2 linked regions of the Homo sapiens genome follow. The protein of the gene in region 1 purifies or fractionates together with the protein of each later gene. This does not show direct contact. Each region holds a gene or a part of one and is shown on either strand. Other genes may lie near its edges. The genes, in order: ZP1 and ZP3.

Region 1 (11,040 bases):
CAGCTTCTAAACGGGATGATTTTGGACAACTGACCTGACTCATAAGCCTCTGTTTCCTCATCTGCAAGGTGGGGAAGATGAACCTGGCCGTGCTCATGGAACAAGGGCATGGGGACATGCCCACACCCAGGGAATGCCCAGGCTGTTCTGGGGCAACAAGCAGGGTGGACACCTAGGGGGTGTCTCCAAGCAACTGCAGCAGCCACAGTTAACCTGGGAAATGGGTTCAGATCTTTCTACAAAGCCCAGGATTCAAATCCTCATTCTGCCCCTCATTGTGTGCACCTAAGAAAGCTCACGCACCCTCCCTTCCTCAGCTGCCTCAGCCACAGGATGTGGATAACTAAGCTTAAAAGAAGTGATGTGAAATACTCAGGCCAGTGCCTGAGACCCTGTGTATCCCTTCTCCACCTCATCTTCGTGCCTGCCTGCTGCCGTGTGCTGTGAGCAGGGAACCCTAGCTAGAAAGATCCTAAGACCCTCCCATCCCCTTACAGCTGTGGAAACTGAGAGCAGAGAGGGGAGGGGGCTTGCCCAAGACCACACAACAAACTAATAGCAAAGCTAAGGCAAGAACCCAGGTCTCCTGGCTGCTGAGTGGGAACTCCTTCCGAGACCCCAGCAACCTCTCCCTGCACCCTTCAACATCCCTGGCCCCTCCCCTTCCCCCACTGCAGATGAATTTGGGAACCGATTTGATGTCAACAACTGCTCCATCTGCTACCACTGGGTCACCTCCAGGCCGCAGGAGCCTGCAGTCTTCTCGGCCGATTACAGAGGCTGCCACGTGCTGGAGAAGGTAGGGGTTGTTCATGCTCTGGCACAGGGGCAAGCTTGTCCTAGTGTCATGTCAGGCTGAAGAGGCCCCTCATGAACCAGAAAGGAGCCAAAGCCGAAGATCTGTTGAGCTGGTGGGTGAGGGAAACTAAGCTCTGGAAGGTACTTTCTGGAATCCACCATGAATCCAGCTCCCTGCCTAATGGCCAGCTCAGCTCTCGTGGGCCCGTCCCCTGCCTGGGTATGCTAGGTGGCCTCACCTTGCTGCTCTATGATGGCCTCTCACCTGCAGGATGGGCGTTTCCACCTGAGGGTGTTCATGGAGGCTGTGCTGCCCAATGGTCGTGTGGATGTGGCACAAGACGCTACTCTGATCTGTCCCAAACCTGACCCCTCCCGGACTCTGGACTCCCAGCTGGCACCACCCGCCATGTTCTCTGTCTCAACCCCACAAACCCTTTCCTTCCTCCCCACCTCTGGCCATACCTCCCAAGGCTCTGGCCATGCCTTTCCCAGCCCACTGGACCCAGGGCACAGCTCTGTCCACCCAACCCCTGCTTTACCATCCCCTGGACCTGGACCTACCCTCGCCACCCTGGCTCAACCCCACTGGGGCACCTTGGAACACTGGGATGTGAACAAACGAGATTACATAGGTACGCAGGACATCTGAGTGTACTTACCCTCTGTCTGGGGACTTCTGGAGTACAGGGTGGCCTAACAGCCTTTTACTGGGCTCTAAGCCATTTCTTTTTTTGTTTTTTTCTTTTTTTAGAAAAAGATGATTCTTTTATTCCTTTGTAGTATTTGGAAAACAGCTTTAAACATGTATAGGTGTACTAAAGCTAGAAGAGGTCTTGTAAATTTGTTTCCTAACTTTAGGCAGAAACTCATTGAAACCATTGCCAGCAACACCTGATTCTCAGAAAATATTCTCTAGAAATTTCAGTAATATTCAGTTTTGAGGGAGGACATTTACTGTGCTGGCTAAGAGCACAAGCTCTGGAGCAGGTTCCCAAGATTCAATTCCAGGGCCATGATTTGCAAACTGTGTGCCTTCAGCCTCATCACTCTGTCCCAACCCTAGGTACCCACCTGAGCCAGGAGCAGTGCCAGGTGGCCTCAGGGCACCTCCCCTGCATCGTGAGAAGAACTTCAAAAGAAGCCTGTCAGCAGGCTGGCTGCTGCTATGACAACACCAGAGAGGTTCCCTGTTACTATGGCAACACAGGTACAACCTCCCACCCCAGCAAGATCCTGGTCCCTTGGATTCTGAAGCGGAAGGAGAGCTGTCTCCTCCAGCTGGTGGAAACTGCTTCCTATCCTCCTCCTGGAGAGCCCAACTCCCAGAGCAGATGGCAGAGGAGACCTTTAGATGGGGCGGTCACATGTCCCAGCTGGCCTTATAACAACTGTCCCAGGGAACTATTAATAGATCTACCTTACACACATCTGGACTTTCAGATCTGAAACGCCCTGGTTTGGATGACAGATTATATGGTGAACCTACTTTTAGAGTGTAGTTCAACTCATTTGTCACATGGATGAGAAAATCAGTCCATAAAGGGTTTGCTGGGGCCAACACCAGCCTAAGTGGAGAGTAAGCGTCCATTCTCCTAGACCGGCACTTAAAGCCTGGCTGTCACCCAGCCATCCCGTCTCTGTGCTGGATGGACACCAAACCCCAAGGCCCTCATCTGCCTTTGTCCCAGCTACTGTCCAGTGCTTCAGAGATGGCTACTTCGTCCTCGTGGTGTCCCAAGAAATGGCCTTGACACACAGGATCACACTGGCCAACATCCACCTGGCCTATGCCCCCACCAGCTGCTCCCCAACACAGCACACGGAAGCTTTCGTGGTCTTCTACTTCCCTCTCACCCACTGTGGAACCACAATGCAGGTAGGAGCCGGGACCACAGGCTGGGGCCTGGTCCCCCACCAGAAAGCCTCACCCAGCTGTCTCTTCCTACAGGTGGCTGGCGACCAGCTCATCTATGAGAACTGGCTGGTGTCTGGCATCCACATCCAAAAGGGGCCACAGGGTTCCATCACGCGGGACAGCACCTTCCAGTAAGGGCAGCCCTCCTCCTACAGGCGTGGCTGTGTGCTAGGGTGTCAGGGGCACAGGCGAGCTCAGTACAGGCTTCGGAGCCATCTCAGCTCAAACCCAGGCTCTGCTGTTACCCGGCTATGTGATCTTAGGCAAGGGGCCCACCTCTTCCCAGCCTCCCCTGCTGGGCAGGGGAAATGTCCCTCTCTCAGGGCAGACATGAGTGTTAAGTGGAGCCCTTCCATGCCTGGCCTGCAGGGCTTGGCTAGAAGCCCAGGGCCAGTCCTGAGAGAGCTGGAGTCCTGAGAGAGCCCTGTCTTGGTCTCTCCAAGAACCAAGCTCAAAGCAACTGAAAGTGTCCCCTTCCAGGTCCCAGGAGGAGGCTGAGGCTACGGCTGTTGCCCCTCCTAATGTCAGGTTAAGAAGCCACAGATGAAGCTGAAGATACCTCTCTGAGGATGTGGTGGGAGAGGAACTGGGTGGGGGAGGAACCCCTCATTGTTAGGGGCCTCCTGGACCTGCTGACTCAAGAGGCAAAACCAACCCAGGTGCCCAGGATGCCAGTGGGGGTGACCCGAGGGAATCTGTCTGTCATGCCTGGCTCTGAACCTGTGTGACCAGGGGCAAAGCACCTAACCTTCACCCTGTGGGACGGAGCCAATGGGTTGTAGAAATCTTGTGCTTGACACTGCATGGTTGCTGGGCATCTCCTTCCCCTTCCCGCCCTGCCGTGAGGGTTGGGGAGCAGGGGACTGTGTCACAGTTCAAATGTATTTGGCTTTAAAGCTCTAAGTAGCACAGAGGTGGTAGCTCACGCCTATGATACCAGCGCTTTGGGAGGCCTAGGTGGGAGAATTGCTGGAAGTTCAAGACTAGCCTGGGCAACACAGCGAGACCCCATTTCTATTTTTTATTTTAATTTAAAAAAACCCATATGTTCTTATGGCCAAGTGGTGGAGGACAAGTCTGTGTCATGCCTTTAGACTCTCTGATGTAAGAGCTCTGGGAGTCAGCCAGAGGTCAACAGAGTGCCTAGGGATTCTCAGAGGGAGGCAGAAGTCAGGGGGAAACAGCTGTAGCCAGCAGGACTAGGCCAGAGAGCTCCTCAGACACAAGGCCTTCAGAACAGGGGTGAGCCTCCTATACCTACTCAGCATCTCCTTGGTACCAGGCCTCTGGGGTGCTAGGAGGGTGTTGGCCCCACCAGAGTGTGGAGGAGTGGCCACCATGGCCCTTAGGCTAGTGAGGAAGATGCTAGACACTGTGGCCTTTAGGCTGTGGCAAACCAGCTGCAACTACAAGGACAATGAAGACACAGGTGCATTATCTTGTGATCTCACTCAGTCTCAGTGCCCTCAAAGGGAGGCAGTCACAGCCATTTTACAAATGAGGACACTGAGGCTTAGGTTAGAAGACTTGCTTGTGGTCCCAAAGCCTGTAAATGCTAAGAAGACTCAAATCCAGGTCTGTCGGGAGGCAGAGCACCTAGGCTCATTCACCAGCCTCAACTGTCAGGCTCCAGGGGCCTCGAACGGCACAGCAGGCAGCTGTGGGTAGCCAGGGCAGACCCAACAAGGTGCCAGCCCCCCGAGGGCCCATCTCTATCCTGCTGTATTCTCCCACCAGGTGCAGGGCCTGGCATAACAGGCTTGAGCCATCCCAGGGAGACCAGGTGGGCAGAGGAATGGGCAGGGTGAGCTTCCTGAGCCTGCCTTGGAAATGCTGAGTATTGCTTAAGTAGCATCCATCTGCCCTGCTGGACAGTACCCTATTTGTTGCACCCACGGAGTTGGTGCCTAGTTTATTACGTAAACAGGATGCTCTGATTCTGTGTCTTCTCCCCCACCCTCTTGCACGTGGACTTCAGGCTTCATGTGCGCTGTGTCTTCAACGCCAGTGACTTCCTGCCCATTCAGGCATCCATTTTCCCACCCCCATCGCCTGCTCCTATGACCCAGCCCGGCCCCCTGCGGCTTGAGCTGCGGATTGCCAAAGGTATGCTATGCTATCCCTGCTCTCTTCTGGCCCCCACTTCCCTGATGCACAGCCCGCCCTGGCTCATGAGTCACTCTCCCTGCAGACGAGACCTTCAGCTCGTACTATGGGGAGGATGACTATCCCATCGTGAGGCTGCTCCGAGAACCAGTCCATGTGGAGGTCCGGCTTCTGCAGAGGACAGACCCCAACCTGGTCCTGCTGCTGCACCAGTGCTGGGGCGCTCCCAGTGCCAACCCCTTCCAGCAGCCCCAGTGGCCCATCCTGTCAGACGGGTGAGTGCCCCCACACTCCCCCCACCTGCTCTGCCTCCTGTAAACAGCCTCTCTGACTTCTCTTCTCAGATGCCCTTTCAAGGGCGACAGCTACAGAACCCAAATGGTAGCCTTGGACGGGGCCACACCTTTCCAGTCGCACTACCAGCGATTCACTGTTGCTACCTTCGCCCTCCTGGACTCAGGCTCCCAGAGAGCCCTCAGAGGACTGGTAAGAAGCCCCGGCTGCCGCATGCCTGGTCCCATCTGTTAAGTGGGAGGAGCTGGTCGCCAAATCCCTCTGGCACCCTGTGAACTTATATGGACAAAGTTCTGGGATGGGGCTTGGCGTCTACCAGGTGTCATGGAAAGCAGCGGGCTTCGGGTCAGCAAGAAGGTAACCCATAACCACCACCAGGAGGAAGGAAAATGCTGCCTGTGCTGCAATCAGCCCTAAATCTGAACTCTGGTCATGGTGTTCTAGGGTGGCCTCACCTCACTTCTGATTCCAGAAATGATAATGTGTTCCATGTAATTCTTTGAATTTTCTTTAACTCAGCAACTTCTCCAGAAGGTAAAGGTAGATAAACTCAGGGTATATTTAGGTCTCCTATGTAATATACAGATGGCCTCAGAGGTGACAGATGCACTTGTCCCATTGAACAACGTATCTTTCACATCACATACCCAAATCTCTAGATTCTTAAATCACTGCCTGTTATTATGTCAGATGTAGACTGATTTCACTTGGAAGCACTGGTTAGTGTGGCTTCGTTCTCATCTCTGCTGTGTGCTGCCCATGAGTGGGGCCTCCTGGGTGCTGGGTTGGGTCAGCTCCTCCTGCTTCTGGTCCCGTAGGGCACTGCCCCTGCCCTTCTGTATCTGGAAGCGGTGGTAATCTGCCCTCCCCTCTGCCCCCAGTCACTGGTCTCCAGGGGTCACAAAGGGAGGGCAAACATCTATTATCCTGCTGCCTGGCCAAGTCCCACCTCCTTGGAATTTGCTGTCTCCCTCAGTAGGGCAGGTGGAAGGGAGAGAGCCAGCCCTCCCAGGGGCTGTGCAGCCAGAGGCAGCATTGGTGAAGCAGGCCCGCCAAGGACTGGGGCATTACGAAGTGCGGTGGTCCCCGCCTGCAGGGCACTCCACTGCAGACTTGGACCTTGGGGAGCAAGGAAGGTGTGGATTTCAAATCTGGAAGGAACACATTCAGCTCTGCACTCCCTCAGCATGGGCAGCAGTCATCATCTTGGTCAAGCAGCTCAGATTTCTCCCTGCCTGGCTAGCAGCAGCCTAGACTTGGCCCAGCTCGGGGATTCCATGTCCTTCCCTTTGTGCTTCCTGCCCGGTGGCACTGAGCCAGCCACTTTGATGTTCTTCTCCTTCCACCAGGTTTACTTGTTCTGCAGCACCTCTGCCTGCCACACCTCAGGGCTGGAGACTTGCTCCACTGCATGTAGCACTGGCACTACAAGTGAGTCTGGGTTGCGAGTGGTATTTGTTCCTTTATACATCTTCAGGCCTGTGCCTGGCCTCTGGGCCACAGGGGCAGGAGACCAGCCCAAGATTTCATTCTTCCCCTGGGCAGGACAGCGACGATCCTCAGGTCACCGTAATGACACTGCCAGGCCCCAGGACATCGTGAGCTCTCCGGGGCCAGTGGGCTTTGAGGATTCTTATGGGCAGGAGCCCACACTTGGGCCCACAGGTAGGAGGGCTTCTGGGTGGGCCCCTCAGGCCTTACCCACTCTCAGCCCCCAAGATTGTGCTGACAAAACAGGGATGCTCCAGCCATAGCTGAGGGCAAGAGATGGTGTCACTGCAGTCAGTGGGGAACTAAGTGAAGACAGACACAGTCCACCTCATCTGCAGAAAGGCAGCTTCAGCTCTGCCCAGTGTGATACAAAGTTCTGGGGTGGAGGGGAGGGTTGGAGGGGCCTCACCCAGCCCTGCCAATCCCGTCTCTCTGACAGACTCCAATGGGAACTCCAGCCTGAGACCTCTCCTTTGGGCGGTCCTTTTGCTGCCAGCTGTTGCCCTGGTCCTTGGGTTTGGTGTCTTTGTGGGCCTGAGCCAGACCTGGGCCCAGAAGCTCTGGGAAAGCAACAGACAGTGAATGGGCCCAATAAACAATCATTTCAAACCTACTGAAACCAGGTGTGGAGAAGTTATTTGTGACGACTAGAACAGAACTATTTCTTATGTGAGAAACTTCCTCCAAGTCAGCTCTGTCCTTCCAAAACTGTGACGTTGATTACAAATACTTCATATATGCCACACCCTGCACAGAGGCCAATGTCCCCCAAGGCTCAACTCGGGAGCCTCTGCCTCTCCACAAGGAACGGTGGCATTTCAGGCAGAGCAAACAGGACAAAGATACTGGAGGTTAAGACATTGACAGTCAAAGAACACCAACAGCTGGGAACTGGGCCCCTGGCAGGAATGAATGGCTTGTGAAGGCTTGTCACCTCCTCACAGACACAGAAGTTCTGACAAGGGCATCCTCAAAGCACCCTGAGCAGCTGCTGTCATGGATAAGGGTTACTCTAAGACTGAGTTGAAGGAGCACTTCACAGACCCCCTGAGCCTGCCAGCCTACCGCTAAAGGCTGCATTTCTGACCACAGCCTCCCATCCCTTCCCCTGGCCTCCCAAGACTATCCATGTGGGAAGGGCTGGCACAGGAGGAATGGCAGCCTGCTGGCCCTGACACTGGCTGCGATGGTGGGCATGGCCACCAGACAGGTCTGTGCCAGTGCTGGCTATGCCGCTGAGCCCAGTTTGCCCATGTATGGCATGGGCCTTCATCTCTGACTTGGCAGCAAAGCCCTTTCTAGACATGTCAATCCTCTAGGTGGAGAAGGGGACAGGATGCTAGGGTTTGGCCTCAATGGGACAGGGAGAAGAATCTGGTAGGGAAGCCTGAACTTGGTTTCAGACACCTTTCCGGACTTCAGGTAGAGCACGAGCTTAGAGAGCTGTTACAAGAGGAGCTGAGGTACTCAAGTCATGCCTGTGGCCTTAATACTGCATGTACCCCCTACTCATCCAGCTCTGGCCTACTCAGCCTTTCCTGTCTTCAGAATACTGGACAAGCATGTGGACCCCAGAGCTGGCTTCTTACTAGCTGTGTGATATTCAGTAAGTTACTCAACTTCCCTGGGCCTCAGATTTCTCATCTGTAAAATGAGGTTAATGTCTATTCCCATAGAAGTATTGGGTAAAATGAGTTAACAGATAAGAATGCTTAGAATAGTACATAACGGCCAACAGTAACTGGGTGCTATTAACTACTGACTAGAATTGCATTTCCTCTTGCCCCAAGCCTAATGCTTACTTAGTTTTTGTTGTCAATGTTTTGGTTTGGTTTTGTATGTACAAGTTTACAGGCCAATACGAAGAGGGGCTAGGGGAAACTGCTGTCTTTTGACTCTTCTAGCTAGAGGGAGAACATAAAAGGCAGGAAGGCCCAAACATTTGCCATGGAAGCTAAGTGACTTCCCTTCTCTGGGCCTGTCTTCCCATCTATGGCTAGCAACGGCCAGTCTTGCCCTGCCCAACTTCCTGGCTTGTACAGGGAGACACAGGATATATCCTGCAGGGTCAGTGTGATATAGGTGAGGATTCTTAGCTTGGCTGGTTGGAGAAGCCAGGTTGACTTGGTCTTAGGGGCCTGGGTTCTGGTTCCTTCCAGCATTAACTCCTCCTCCTTCCCCTCCCTCCATCATACAAGCTCATGTAAGGATTTCAAACTTCCAGAGGTACCAATTGGAATAATGCTGTGTAACTGAATTTGCTTTAACACAAGGGTGGATGTCTTGTGTCATTTCCTATCATTTCAAATAGAGGTAGTCTCTAAACTGCGGTTGAACTATGATATTTGATCTGTTGATAGAGACCAAGTGGGTTAAGGATGACGAGTGTTGAACACAATTACTTAAGCATATAGTTCTTTGTATACTATTTTCTTGAAAGACAGTCTTAGAACTGCTGGGTCAAGACCACACCTCTTATGACTGTGGGACTCGGGACTGTCTGAGTGTCTCCCCACCCAATCCCACTGTGCAGGCTTGCCACCACAGGCCAGTAACACTCTAAATCTTTGCCTATCTGAGCATCATAAGGCAAATGGCATTGGCCGTTTTGAAGGGGCTCTTTTTGATTAGAAGTCAAGCATCTTTCTAGCCATTGGTATCGCATAAGTTACCCTTCATGTCTTTTATCTACTCTCCACTATTTCTCTCCTCATCTGTAAAGAGCTTTCACAAATCAAGGGGCCAGTATCCTCATTTTATAAATTTTCCATCTAATTGGCCATTGGCTTTTCTCTGCCGGGTTCTTTTATCTTAGAAAGGATTATGTAACAATGAATTTTTCCCTCTCATATTTGTATTTTTGAGTATGGCAAAGACTTTCCCCTATCCTATATAATCATCCAAGTATCCATTTGCTTTATTGTGATATTCCAGTAACAATGCAATTGTGTATCTCCTACTTCCAAGTGTATATAGGTACATGATTTTGGCAACTGATAAATTGTGCATAGATTTTGTCAACAATTCCATGTCAAAGGAGTCTGTTTACTGAAACAAATATACAAACTATATGAACAATGAAGTTCACTGCAGTGCTAGCTTTCTCTCGGGGGAAGCAATCTAAACTTTGGCTTTCCTAGATAACAAAATTTAGTCTAAATTTTGCCCAATTTAAAGCTTTCTTCCTCCCTTCTTACTGCCTCCTGATGTGAGCAGGCCCCTGCTGGACCTTGAGAACAATTCATCAGACCCGATGGGGACAATAACCACTGTCTCTGACCTGTGGCAGGAAGCAGAGCTGCTCAGGGCCCGTCAGGTTTTGTCTCTTCCTGCCCTTTTGGGGAGGTGGGGATGGGGATGGGGGCAGAGGCTGTGGCTATATCTATATAAGACCTAAGGGAATCCCCTGTCTTTCCATTCCCCAGGCCCCCACCAGCTTCCATATACTTACATTATACATTGAGAGCAAATTAACTTCATGGTGCTTTGTTTTTAATAAAGGGGACAGAATACTTCACCGCCTGTTAGTTCAGCTGAATTCAACTCCCTGTCTGGACACTTATGTGAGAACATTTCATGGAAAAGTGCCACTTCTGTTCCAGCAGTAGGAACACTAGATACTTGGATCAACCTGAAGTAAACAACTAAAATACCAGATTATAAATATTTTAAAATATTCTTAGACTAGTGTTGAATTAACATGGGGAATGAGGCGTGCAGATAGGCCAAAAATAAAAAGCAAAAACTCTGGGAAGTAAAATCAGCTTCTATTCTGGGAAGTTCTACAGGACTCTGGAGACCTTGGCCTTCTGCTTTGATGAGTCCAGGGAACTGTAGATCAAGCCCGGAGCCTACAAAGGCAACAAGTCCAGATGCAGGGCCTCCTCTAAAGCTGGAACTTCAGAGGTCCCAGTCCTCAGTGCAAGAGTGAAGGAGAAACAAGCCTCTGGCAAAAGTGGGCAGCAAGGAATCCTGCCTATTTTTATCATGGGGCAGGATGTATTGAAAAAAAAAAAAATCACCTTGAGAATGAAAAGTGTAATTCCTTCTTCTCTGGTGTGTGCAGTCAAATCCTCAGACTGAAGGAGAGAAGAGAAAGAACCCCTCAGGTTCAATCTAGGAACAAACCTCAAGGGCTAAATTTAATTTAAAGTGATCCCCAGGCTTCAGGAAGAAGCAAATGCAGGTCCTGTCTGAAAGGTGATTTCAGCCAAAGCCTCAGAGAATTATGACAGATCAAGTTGCAAACAAGATGAACACCTCACAATAAGTCACAAGATAACAACACACAGTGAAAAGTCAGGGCACAAAGTGAGAAGATAGTTGCAATACATTCTTGACAAAGGATTACTATCCAAAAATATGTTTAAAACTGCTACAAATCAAGAAAAAGGTAACACAAATAGAAAAATAGGCAAACGACACTAACAGGC
Region 2 (12,394 bases), on another chromosome or scaffold:
CCAGCCTGAGTGACAGTGAGACTCCATCTCCAAAAAAAAAAAAAAAGGCAGGTGTTAGCCTTCCTGGAGGCTTTCTGCAGGGGCAAAGAAAACCAGTGTGAACTTCGTAGCCAGGGTGGCTTCTTGAACTTGGTCATAGGTTAGGCTAGTGATTCTGAAGGCATCATCCTCAGCTGGAGGGCTTGTTGAAATTGATGACTGGGCCCCAACCCAGGGTTTGATTCAGGTGGTCTAGTGAAGCCTAGAATCTGCATTCTTAAGTGTTGGTTCTGCCAGTCTGGGTCCTCCCCTTGAGAACCTAAACTAGAAAACTCAAATTGACACTAAGAGGGAAGGAGAAGGAAGGAATGAAGATGGGAACTGCCTAATGGCTGAGGTGGGGGAGGGATGCAGTAGGAAGTGCAGGTGCAAGGACCAACATCTAGCCGGGAAGTACTGGTAAGTGGTTAGAAGTAAATTGCCTGGTGCGGTGGCTCGTGCCCATAATCCCAGCACTTTGGGAGGCTGAGGCGGGCAGATCACGAGGTCAGGAGATTGAGACCATCCTGGTTAACACGGTGAAACCCCCTCTACTAAAAATACAAAAAATTAGCTGGGCATGATGGTGGGCACCTGTAGTCCCAGCCACTCCAGGTTCCCAGGTGCAAGTGATTCTCCTGCCTCAGTCTCCCAAGTAGCTGGGAGTACAGGTACCCGCCACCATGCCTGGCTAATTTTTTTGTATTTCTAGTAGAGACAAGGTTTTACCATGTTGTCCAGGCTGGTCCCAAACTCCTGACCTCAGGTGATCCGCCTGCCTCGGTCTCCCAAAGTGCTGGAATTACAGGCGTGAGCCACCATGCCCAGCCTCAAGTAGCTTTTAAACAAGCTCACTGAGATGAGAGGTGAGGCGGTGAGCTTAGAATAGGTGGTTAGGAAGTGATTAAAGTAGGGGTTTCCAGTGCTGGCTCTATACTAATCATCTGGAGAGGTTGTAAAAATACTGATTGTAGAGAGTCTCATACCTTCACTCTATTGGGGTAGGGCATGGTGTCACATTTTGTAACATTAACTAAATCTTCATAGGTGTTTGCTGTAAAACTCCATGAACTTCAGTGTGCACACCATCTAGGTTCTACCACCAGCATTTTTTTTTTTTTTTTGAGACAGTCTCACTCTGTCACCCAAGCTGGAATGCAATGGTGCGGTCTTGGCTCACTGCAACCTCTGCCTCCGGGTGCAAGCAATTCTGCCTCAGCCTCCTGAGTAGCTGGGATTGTAGGCGCCTGCCACCATGCCCGGCTAATCCTTGTATTTCTTAGTAGAGACAGGGATTCATCATTTTGGCCAGGCTGGTCTTGAACTCTTGACCTCATTATCCAACCGCCTCAGCTTCCCAAAGTGCTGGGATTATAGGCATGAACCACCACGCGCCCCCCGCCCCCTTTTTTTTTTTTTTTTTTTTTTTTTTTTTTTTTTTTTTTTTTTTTGAGAGGGTCTCTGTCACCCAGGCTGGAGTACAGTGGCCCAATCTTAGGTCACTGCAACTTCCACCTCCCAGGCTCAAGCGATTCTCCTGCCTTAGCCTCCCAAGTAGCTGAGATTGTAGGCATACGCCACTACTGAGTGCCTGTTATATTTTTAGTAGAGATGGTTTCACCATATTGGCCAGGCTGGTCTTGAATACCCGACCTCAAACGATCCACCTGCCTTGGCCTCCCAAAGTGCTGGGATTACAGGCGTGAGCCACTGTACCCGGCCTGCTAGCATTTTACTGTTATCCTCCATCTACTGACCTACCTTATTCTACTTGGAAATGCATCAAAAGCCACTTAAGCTCCTAGGTGACTCTAATACGCAGCCAGGCTTGCAAACCTCTGAAGCAGAGGCTCATACGTCAGGGTGGCATTAAGGGACAAAGTAGAAACTTTTCAAAGATGACATCGATGCCACTTCACCTCCTCCAGCAGCTGCCTTGTGGGAAGAGAAAGATCAACACACAGATCAGTAGGGTAGCAAAAGGGAAAAGCATCTAATATTGATGAGATGGCCTGAAGCTCTCAGTGGTGGGCCCTGCTTCAGTGGGGCTGGGGATAAAGGAGGGCAGATTTGGGAAAAGAGTCCTGGCCCTCGGATCAGTGACCGATAGCTCCTTAGGGGAGAGGATCCTGGTTGTGGGAGGAAGTCAAGATTGACCTCAGGTGTGGCCATTTGGGAAGAAGATGGAGAGAAGTTTTCACAGAGGTGGTAGCGGTCAGCATGGGTATGGACTGAGGTGGTTTCTCAATCTCTGGGGGTTGAGGGGTAACTAAGACCAGAGAACAGTGCTGTTTAATGGAAGATAGTCTGAGCCCTTGGAGGGCCCCCCTTCAAAGGTAGGATTGATGATGCCTCAGTAGACTATGTCCCATGGCACAAAGAAGGAACAACCCTATTTCAGAGCAATAGGGTGGCTGGGCACGGTGGTTCACATCTGTAATCCCAGCACCTTGGGAGGCCGAGGTGGGAGGATCAGAGTTCAGGTGTTTAAGGCTGCAGTGAGCTATGATGGTGCTATTGCCCTCAACAGAGCAAGACCCTGTGTACTTTTTTTTTTTTTTTTTTTTTTTGGACAGAGTCTCGCTCTGTCACCCAGGCTGGAATGCAATGGCATGATCTCGGTTCACTGCAACCTCCACCTCCTTATTCAAGCCATTCTCCTGCCTCAGCCTCCCTAATAGTTGGAATTATAGGCACTCAATCACCACGCCTGGCTAATTTTTGAATATTTAGTAGAGATGGGGTTTCACTATGTTGGTCAGGCTGGTCTTAAACTCCTGACCTCAGGTGATCCACCTGCCTCAGCAAGTGCTGGGATTACAGGCATGAGCTATCACACTCCCCTCTTTTTTTTTTTTTTTTTGTTTTTTTTTGGGGGGAAATGGAGTGTCACTCTTGTTGCCCAGGCTAGAGTGCAATGGCGTAATCTCAGCTCACTGCAACTTCCCATCTCCCAGGTTCAAGCAATTCTTCCATTCCAGCCTCCCAAGTAGCTGGGATTATAGGCACCTGCCACCATGCCCAGCTAATTTCTGTATTTTTTTTTTTTTTTTTAGTAGAGATGGGGTTTCACCATGTTGGCCAGGCTGGTCTCAAACTCCTGACCTCAGGTGATCCACTGACCTCAGCCTCCCAAAGTGCTGGGATTACAGGCATGAGCCACCACGCCCAGCCTAGACCCTGCTTCTAAAAGGCCGCTATAGGGGAACTGCCCTGGGATCTTAGACTCCAGTTAGCACCAGAAAAACATACTAGGAAAAAGCTAAGGATGAAAGTACATTTCCTTTGTGGAATAGACAACAGGGCCTTGGAAGCTTCTTACTTGCAGGGCAGGTGGCTAAGATGGGCAGCTGGACAACTGCTAAACTGGCTTGTTTCTAAAAGTCTGAATTTACATGGTTTCAAGTTTCTCTGCTGGTGTACTTGGCCACTAGGTGGTGACTGAGGCTTGTGGCTCTGAGGCTTCTGCTGGAAGGTGGCAGAATTGCCATGCTCTGCCCGAGGTTGAGCAGGGAGGAATTTTAGCCCTGCCTGAAATATGAAGGGAAACTGACCTGGGGACGGGCCAAGGCTAGACTGAGCCCTGGCTCTGTCAGAATGGCCCCTAGCCCCAGCAGCAGGATGGAATGTCAGTCTAAAATGAGAAGGCTTGGCCAGGTACGGTGGCTCATGCCAATAATCCCAGCACTTTGTGAGGCCAAGGCAGGTGGATCACTTGAGGCCAGGAGTTCAAGACAAGCCTGGCCAACATGGGGAAACCCCATCTCTACTACAAATACAAAAACTAGCCTGGTGTGGTGGTGGGTACCCGTAATCCCATCTACTTGGGAGGCTGAGGCAAGAGAATCGCTTAAACCTCGGAGGTAGTGGCTACAGTGTACTCCAGCCTGGACTAGAGACAGACTCCGTCTCAGAAAAAAAAAAAAAAAAAAAGGGTAGCGGGGCAGTGCTTACAGGGTAGTTGACTATTCCCTGGGTGGTGGGGGGTCTTTCAGCTCCCAGCAGGAGCTCATATTGGGTTCATTCCCTCGTACTTGTCTAACGAGGGTGGGTAAACGTTTCCCAGAGGCCAGGACTGTCAGGGTATCAGCCTGGTGAGTCTTCTGGTCGTCATATCCCTTACAGGTGAAGGGAGACTGACGTAGGCTTGACTAATAGCAGAGGTATGTGCAAGGAAGAAAAGCCCAGGGAAGCTTGCCCAAAGAGTGAGCCATCAAACTCAAGTCTGGCCGGGCGCAGTGGCTCACGCCTGTAATCCCAGCACTTTGGGAGGCCAAGGCAGGTGGATCACAAGGTCAGGAGTTCAAGACCAGCCTGGCCAAGATGGTGAAACCCTGTCTCTACTAAAAATACAAAAAAATTAGCGAGGCATTATGGCAAGTGCCTGTAATCCCAGCTACTTGGGAGGCTGAGGCAGGAGAATTGCTTGAACCTAGGAGGCAGAGGTTGCAGTGAGCTGAGATCGTGCCATTGCACTCCAGCCTAGGCAACAGCAAGACTCCACCTCAAAAAAAAAAAAAAAAAAAACCTCTTAAGTCTGAAATGGAAACTCCACAGAAGCAAGTCCAAAAGGCTTCTTTATGTGCCCAAGGACCTCAGGTCCCAGAAACAACTTGGTCTTGCCTTAGCTGGCAATACAGTGACTACATCCCTGAAGAAAAGTAGCTTGTCAACTAGTCAAGTGGCAGGTGGCAGCGTCAGAAGCCCAGCTAAGCTGCTAGCTATTAAGGTGTCTACCACTCACCTCGGTCACCTGGGGATGGGCGCGGGTTTAGCAATGCTGAGTTAAGCCCAGGACTGGCCAGGCACGGATAGCTGGCACCTGTAATCCCAGTACTTTGGGAGGCTGAGGCGGACAGATCACTTGAGCCCAGGAGTTTGAGGCCAGCTTGGGCAACATGGCAAAACCTCATCTCTGCAAAAAATCCAAAATTAGCCAGGTGTAGTGGCTTGTACCCGTAATTCCAGCTGCTCATGAGGCTGAGGTGGGAGGATCCCTTGAGCCCAGGAGGTCAAGGCTATAGTGAGGCATCATCATACCACTGTACTCCAGCCTGGGTGACAGGCCCTGTCTCAGAAGCCCAGGGTCAAGCATGCTCAATGATTGGGTAAGTTTGGAAAAGATCAGGGGAATAAGTGGTGGATTCCAGTCTAAAACTAGTTGCTACTTGCTCTAACATTGGGTAAGTGAACCTTTACACCATCTTAGAGATGAGGCTCTTCCTTCCCCCTGTTTATTTTATGAGACAGTCTCACTCTGTCAGCCAGGCTGGGGTGCAGTGGCATGATCTCGGCTCACTGCAACTTCTGCCTCCCAGGTTCCAGTGATTCTCCTGCCTCAGCCTTCCAGGTAGCTGGGACTACAGGTACCCACCACCACGCCCAGCTAACTTTGTATTTTTAGTAGCGATGGGGTTTCACCATGTTGGCCAGGTTGGTCTCGAACTCCTGACCTCAGGTGATCTACCCGCCTTGGGCTCCCAAAGTGCTGGGATTATAGGTGTGTGCCAATGCACCCGGCCCCTTCTCACTCTTTAAAGGGTTGAGGGTTATAAGAGAACTGGTGTGTTAAACTCCCAGGCACAGCCTGGAACTCGGCCTGGAAATAGCTGTTATTCCTTGCAGATATACATCACCTGCCACCTGAAGGTCACCCTAGCTGAGCAGGACCCAGATGAACTCAACAAGGCCTGTTCCTTCAGCAAGCCTTCCAACAGGTGAGGAGGACAGGTGCTCCGTGACTGGAGTAGAAACTGAATCGGCGACCCCTTGTCTATTTCCCCCAATATATTATCAGCAAACTGCTTCCTGCAGGCAACAAAAATCTAAGCTGCTTCTCTTTCATCTCAGCTGGTTCCCAGTGGAAGGCTCGGCTGACATCTGTCAATGCTGTAACAAAGGTGACTGTGGCACTCCAAGCCATTCCAGGAGGCAGCCTCATGTCATGAGCCAGTGGTCCAGGTCTGCTTCCCGTAACCGCAGGCATGGTATGTCACAGAATGGCCAAGAGGCTGTTCATTGTCCCTTACTCAGTTGAGGGTACCTGCTGTCATTTCAGGGTGATGGTATTTTCCCTTGTCCTCCATTAAAACTGTTTGTACCTAGGCCTGCAGCTACCTTTCCCTAACACAAATCTTGGGGTTAAGCAGGAGGGGCTCTCAGCCTTCCACCTCGGTGGCAGCCAGGGAGATCTGCTGTCATCCTAGGCTTCTACTGAGACATAATTAGGCATGTAGGGGAAATATAGCAGTTGTTAAGATAATCTGGCTTGGCATAGTGGCTCAGGCCTGTAATCCCAGCACTTCGGGAGGCCAAGGCGGGCAGGTCACCTGAGGTCAGGAGTTCGAGACCAGCCTGACCAACATGGAGAAACCCCATCTCTACTAAAAATAAAAAATTAGCTGGGCGTGGTGGTACATGCCTGTAATCCCAGCTACTTGGGAGGCTGAGGCAGGAGAATCACTTGAATCTGGGAGGCAGAGGTTGCAGTGAGCCGAGATTGCACCATTGTACTCCAGCCTGGGCAACAAGAGTAAAACTGTCTCTCAAAAAAAAAATAATAATCTGGCCAGAACAGTGGGTTGTGCCTATAATCCTAGCACTTGGGGAGGCTGAGGCCAGGGAAATCGCTTGAGCCCCATGAGTTCTCGACCAGCCTGGGCAACATAGCAAGACCCTGTCTCTACAAAAAAGATGATGTACTAGGGAATCCCTCTTGGGTGACCTGCTTTCTCCGTATGAGAAAGCTGTCTTTTTCTTTTTTCTTCCCCCTCCCCTGCACCAAGATGGTGTCTAGCTCTGTCCTCCAGGCTGGAGAGCAATGGCACGATCTCTGCTCACTGAAACCTCTACCTCCCAGGTTCAAGCTATTCTCCTGCCTCAGCCTCCCAAGTAGCTGAGACTACAGGCATGTGCCACCATGCCCAGTTAACTTTTTTATTTTCAGTAGAGACGGGTCTTGCCGTGTTGGCCAGGCTGGTCTCAAACACCTGACCTCAGGTGATCTGCCTGCCTCAGCCTCCCAAAGTGCTGGGATTACAGGCATTAGCCATCACACCTGGCCGAGAAAGCTGTGTTTTTTTTGTCTAGAAACTGTTTATTAGCCCACACAAAAAAGACAACATATTAGTTTAGCCCACTGAGGCAGAATAAAACCTCCAACCCAGTTCCCGGTTAGGGACTAAGATAACCCTTGGTTGTGTGTTCTCCTTTCACAGTGACAGAAGAAGCAGATGTCACCGTGGGGCCACTGATCTTCCTGGACAGGAGGGGTGACCATGAAGTAGAGCAGTGGGCTTTGCCTTCTGACACCTCAGTGGTGCTGCTGGGCGTAGGCCTGGCTGTGGTGGTGTCCCTGACTCTGACTGCTGTTATCCTGGTTCTCACCAGGAGGTGTCGCACTGCCTCCCACCCTGTGTCTGCTTCCGAATAAAAGAAGAAAGCAATATCTGGTCGTGGTGTGGTGGTCAGATGGAAGGTCAGAATTAGTACTGACTGTGTCGGGTGGGGACGACTGTATACCACCCGCCCCGTGCACTCACATAGCATAGTCCAGCAAGCACTACTGTGTCTCTACTGTAAACAGGGCAGGGTTCATGTCCTTAGACAACTATAATCTATCACCTCCATGGGAACCAACATGGAAACTCTTAGATGAAGGTCAGTCTGGCTGGACCCACCTTACTTCTAGGCTAGCAAAGAATCTTATATCTCTGGCCCCCATGGATTTGACTCTAGACATGGGAGTGGGGAGGAGAGAGCTTCCAGGCCCACTTCTCCAAGGCAAGCAGGCAGGCAGCTCTGTCCAGATGCTAGAGGCCAGAAGGCCAGTCATGACTGGGCCCTCCCAGTAGGGCAGTGATCAGAGCACTGCTTCTGCCTGGTCTTAGCTGTCACCTTGGGCTTGAAGCTATTCTTGGGACATGTTGGTATGAACTTGTCAAAGCTGCAGCAAGGGGTGACTGGCACTCCAAGCCATTCCAGGAGGCAGCCTAATGTCATAAGCCGGTGGTCCTGAGGTGGCTCTGAGGTGGGTACTTTTGCTTTGGGGGTAGGAAGCCTCAGGAGAGCTGAGAACCTGCTTTGGTTTTGGTTTTGTTTTGATTTGTCCCTTTTGAGAGAAAGGTCTGGCTGTGTTGCCCAGGCTGGAGTGCAGTAGTATAGTCACAGCTCACTGCAACCTGGAACTCCTGGTCTCCAGCCATCCTCCTGCCTGAGCTTCCTGAGTTGCTGGGACTACAGGCATGAGCCCCACTGTGCCCAATTTATTCTATTTTTGGTAGGAACTGGGTCTTGCTATGTTCCCCAAGCTGGCCTCGAACCCCTGGCCTCACGTGATCTCTCTCCTTGGCCTCCAAAAGCACTGGGATTATAGACATGAGGCCTCACTGTCACTGGGGGGAGCTGCTTCTCAACCTCCCCCTACCTTTATCGCACTCCCTAAATAGGCTGCTTCCCTCCCCCAGGTTTCAGCCATAGTTCCTAGGAGTGAATAAGGGAATTGTGCCCCAAGGAGGGTGCCCAGGGAACTTGTGCCCCCTTTGCTGGGGAAGGTGTTCATGGTACCTCTGTGGGAGGCTTCACATCCCTCAGTAGTTGGCTCCAGCCTTGCCCCAAACTCAAGCCATTCTCACTCGGGGAAGTTCACTTGCGCTGCAGCATCCCAGCCTGGCTGGCTACTTGCTGTGAGCCTGCCAGTCCTCATGGGCAACATGGGGGTGGCACCTACTGAGCAGGATTAGGCATAAACTGATGAAAGCTGAAAGATGCTCAGGTGCAACTGGCATGGTGCTTATCTCTGGCCCTTCTGGCTGAGGGCAGGGGCTCCAGCGTGTTGACTCGGGTATAGACATGTCTATAGTGCATTCAGAGCAAGGTTTGGGTAGCTTTGGACCTACTGAGAGCAGGAAGGCCTTTGATACTCTAAGTGTGGTCTGTGAACGTTGGCATCACCTGAGAATTTGTTAGAAATGTATCATTTAAAGCCCCATCCCAGACCTAGAAATTTGCATCTTAAATCCCAGGGTGGGGTGGGCATGGTGGCTCACGCCTGTAATCCCAGCACTTTGGGAAGCCAAGGCAGGTGGATCACCTGAGGTCAGGAGTTCAAGACAAGCTTGGCTAATATGGTGAAACCCCGTCTCTACTAAAAATACAAAAAATTAGCTGGGCATCGTGGTGGGTGCCTGTAATCCCAGCTAGCTGGGAGGCTGAAGCAGGAGAATTGCCTGAACCCGGGAGAGGCAGAGGTTTCAGGGGGCTGAGATCGCGCCACTGTACTCCAGCCTGGGCAACAGCAAGACTCCATCTCAAAAAAAAAAAAAACAAAAACCCAGGTGATTTGAGTGGTTAAGGGCACTGAGCCAGGGACTTGTGGCACGAAGGGATTGTTCCGGGTGAGCCGCTTGCGGCCTAAGCAGGTTGTGGTGTGATCTGTAGGGGAGTAACAGGCTGGGGTTCAAAAACGCCAGATACAGTGGTTCAGGCCTGTAATGCCAGCACTTTGGGAGACCGAAGTGGGAAGATGGCTTGAGCCTAGGAGCTCAAGACCAGCCTGAGCAACGTGGTGAGACCCCATCTCTACAAAATATAAAAATTAGCCGAGCACAGTGGTACGTGCCTGTAGTCCCAACTGCTTGGGAAGCTGAGGCTGGAGGATCACTTGAGCCCAGGAATTCAAGGCTACAGTGAGCTGTACTCACTGCTCAGGTCCCAGCCTTGCTGCCTCCTGCTGCGCTCTAGCCAGAGTGACAGAGCAAGACCTTCTCAAAAAACAAAATTGCCTAGGGGTTGCAGAGGTAGGCTTCCTGGAGGTGGTGATCCAGAAGCAAATCCTCAACCATGGGGAGGTGGATGTGGTGGCTCACACCTGTAATCTTAGCATTTTGGGAGGCCGAGGCGAGTGGATCACTTGAAACCAGGAGTTCAAGACCAGCCTGGCCAACATAGCAAAACCCCATCTCTACTAAAAATATAAAAATTAGCCAGGTGTGTGGTGGGTGCCTGTAGTCCCAGCCACTGGGGAGGCTGAGGCAGGAGAATCACTTGAACCCAGGAGATGGAGGTTGCAGTGAGCCAAGAGCGTGCCACTGCATTCCAGCCTGGGTGTTGGAGTGAGAATATCTCAAAAAAAAGAGGGGAGAGAAATGGGAGAATCTGTGCCCTGGGGGCATGGAAGGCCTCAGTGCCTAGTAAAGAGTGGGGCTTGGCCTGGAGAGGGAGGCCTCATGGGCCAGATAAGGGAGATACTGGCCCATCTAAGCATGCGTGTGCCGGTAGACTTTCCCTGTCAAGATGATCAACTGGAATGGCAGAGAATGCGGCCTGCAGGCTGGGAGACATCCTTGAAGCCATATCCCCAGGCCCTAGTCCCATCTGCCACTCTTTTTTTTTTTTTGAAACGAGGTCTTGCTATGTTGCCCAGGCTGGACTCCAACTCCTGGGCTCAAGCATTCCTCCTGCCTCAGCCTCCCAAGCAGCCACAAACCACACCTGGCTTCTTCCTGCCACTTCTAGCTTAGCAGGTAACTTCATCTGTAAAAAGGGGATGACGTGATTTCTTGGGGGAATGAGTAGAGCGCTTGGTAGAATCATGGCTCATGCAAGAGGTCTCTGAGCCGGGCGTGGTGGCTCATGTCTGTAATCCCAGCACTTTGGGAGGCTGAGGTGGGCAGATCACGAGGTCAGGAGTTCGAGACCAGCCTGGCCAACATAGTGAAACCCCATCTGTACTAAAAATACAAAAATTAGCCAGGCGTGGTGGCATGTGCCTGTAGTCCCAGCTACTTGGGAGGCTGAGGCAGGAGAATCGCTTGAACCCGGGAGGTGGAGGTTGCAGCGAACCAAGATTGCACCACCCCGGGCAACAGTGCGAGACTCCGTTTCAAAAAAAAAAAAAAAAAAGGTCTCTGGCAAAATGCTCCAGGCTTGGGGTCCGACGGGTACTTCTACCCCTGACAATCTGTTTACTTATCACCATCCTCTTTTCAGATGGGGAAGTTCTTTCCATCAGGATTATAGCAAGGATTGGTCTTCATGGCACACTTGGCATCCAAGCACGTGTTGTTGGAGCTGTTCTATGAGCCAGGAGACATCGGGGAACGGTTCTTGAAATAAACATCCGTCTCTTCCTTGTACTCAAGTTCTTAGGGGTTGCAACTTTCTGAGAGCTTGTCCTTCATTCAACTTCTTTTCTCAGCAGAAAGAGGAAGTGGCTGTGTCAGGGGAGGGGAGGAGTTATGACTAAGATGTGGCCATGAATGTCAGCTCCCTGCCAGCTCCAGATGGGCCTCAGCAGGATAGTTTCCCTGGGCCTTTGCCAGGAGAGACAGCCTCCAGCAGCAATGTCAGAGGGCTCGGCCTGTCTGCCTCCCAGGGGAACTAGACTGGAAATGAAAGGCAGTGGCAAGCCACTGAGGGTTCTCTAGACTCCATTGCTTAATCCTCCTCTTTCCCTAAAGTTTCCAGAAGCTTCCTATTGCATTGGAAAGCCTCTGTAAACCAACACTTTGGGTGTGGGTTTATTTTTTGAGATGGGGTCTCACTCTGTTGCCCAGGCTGGATTGCAGTGGCACCACCATAACTCACTGCAACCTCGACTTCTCTGGTTCAAACCATCCTCCCACCTCAGCCTCCCAAGTAGCTGGGATTACAGGGGCATGCCACCATGCCCAGCTAATTTTATTTTATTTTTTTAGTACAGACGGGGTTTCACCATGTTGGCCAGGCTGGTCTTGAACTCCTGACCTCAAGTGCTCCTCCTGCCTCGGCCTACCAAAATGTTGGGATTACAGGCATGAGCCACCGCGCCCAGCCAGTTCTCATTCTTCACTGGAGATTGTAGCCAGACATTAGAGAAAACTGGAAGAATCTAGAATCTAATCCAGTCTACAGGTAGATAAATAACTCAAACAATGAACATTACTATAATAACAGGTAAACTATCGTTTTTCTATTGAAATATAATTTTTCTCCCTATAGTCACCTTGAACTCTTGACCTCGTGATTCGCCCCCCTCGGCCTCCCAAAGTGCTGGGATTACAGGCGTGAGCCACCGTGCCTGGCCCTCCTTTATTTTATTTATTTTTTTTTTTGGAGACAGAATCTCACTGTCACCCAGGCTGGAATGCAGTGGTGCAATCTCGGCTCACAGCAACTTCCACCTCCCGGGTTCAAGCGATTCTCCTGCCTCAGCCTCCCAAGTAGCTGGGATTCCAGGCACATGCCACCACGCCTGGCTAATTTTTGTATTTTTAGTAGAGACGGCGTTTTGCCATGTTGGCCAGGCTGGTCTCAAACTCCTGATCTCAAGTGATCCGCCTGCCTCGGCCTCCCGGAGTTCTGGGATTACAGGTGTGAGCCACTGTGCCTGGCCAGA

What was found.
Region 2: the proteins of ZP1 (region 1) and ZP3 purify together in Homo sapiens (co-immunoprecipitation; 2 studies listed by IntAct). This does not show direct contact.

What each region holds. Positions count from the first base shown.
Region 1 is NC_000011.10:60,868,468-60,879,507, forward strand, and holds the end of ZP1 (zona pellucida sperm-binding protein 1 isoform 1 precursor), read left to right. Parts: intron 1-677; coding exon 678-799; intron 800-1,069; coding exon 1,070-1,433; intron 1,434-1,864; coding exon 1,865-2,008; intron 2,009-2,025; exon of another isoform or gene 2,026-2,489; coding exon 2,490-2,677; intron 2,678-2,749; coding exon 2,750-2,847; intron 2,848-4,694; coding exon 4,695-4,822; intron 4,823-4,907; coding exon 4,908-5,097; intron 5,098-5,166; coding exon 5,167-5,308; intron 5,309-6,465; coding exon 6,466-6,547; intron 6,548-6,661; coding exon 6,662-6,781; intron 6,782-7,046; coding exon 7,047-7,189; 3' UTR 7,190-7,220; downstream 7,221-11,040. UniProt on the Homo sapiens protein: Component of the zona pellucida, an extracellular matrix surrounding oocytes which mediates sperm binding, induction of the acrosome reaction and prevents post-fertilization polyspermy.
Region 2 is NC_000007.14:76,434,607-76,447,000, forward strand, and holds the end of ZP3 (zona pellucida sperm-binding protein 3 isoform 1 precursor), read left to right. Parts: intron 1-5,643; coding exon 5,644-5,735; intron 5,736-5,868; coding exon 5,869-6,005; intron 6,006-7,235; coding exon 7,236-7,450; 3' UTR 7,451-7,463; downstream 7,464-12,394. UniProt on the Homo sapiens protein: Component of the zona pellucida, an extracellular matrix surrounding oocytes which mediates sperm binding, induction of the acrosome reaction and prevents post-fertilization polyspermy.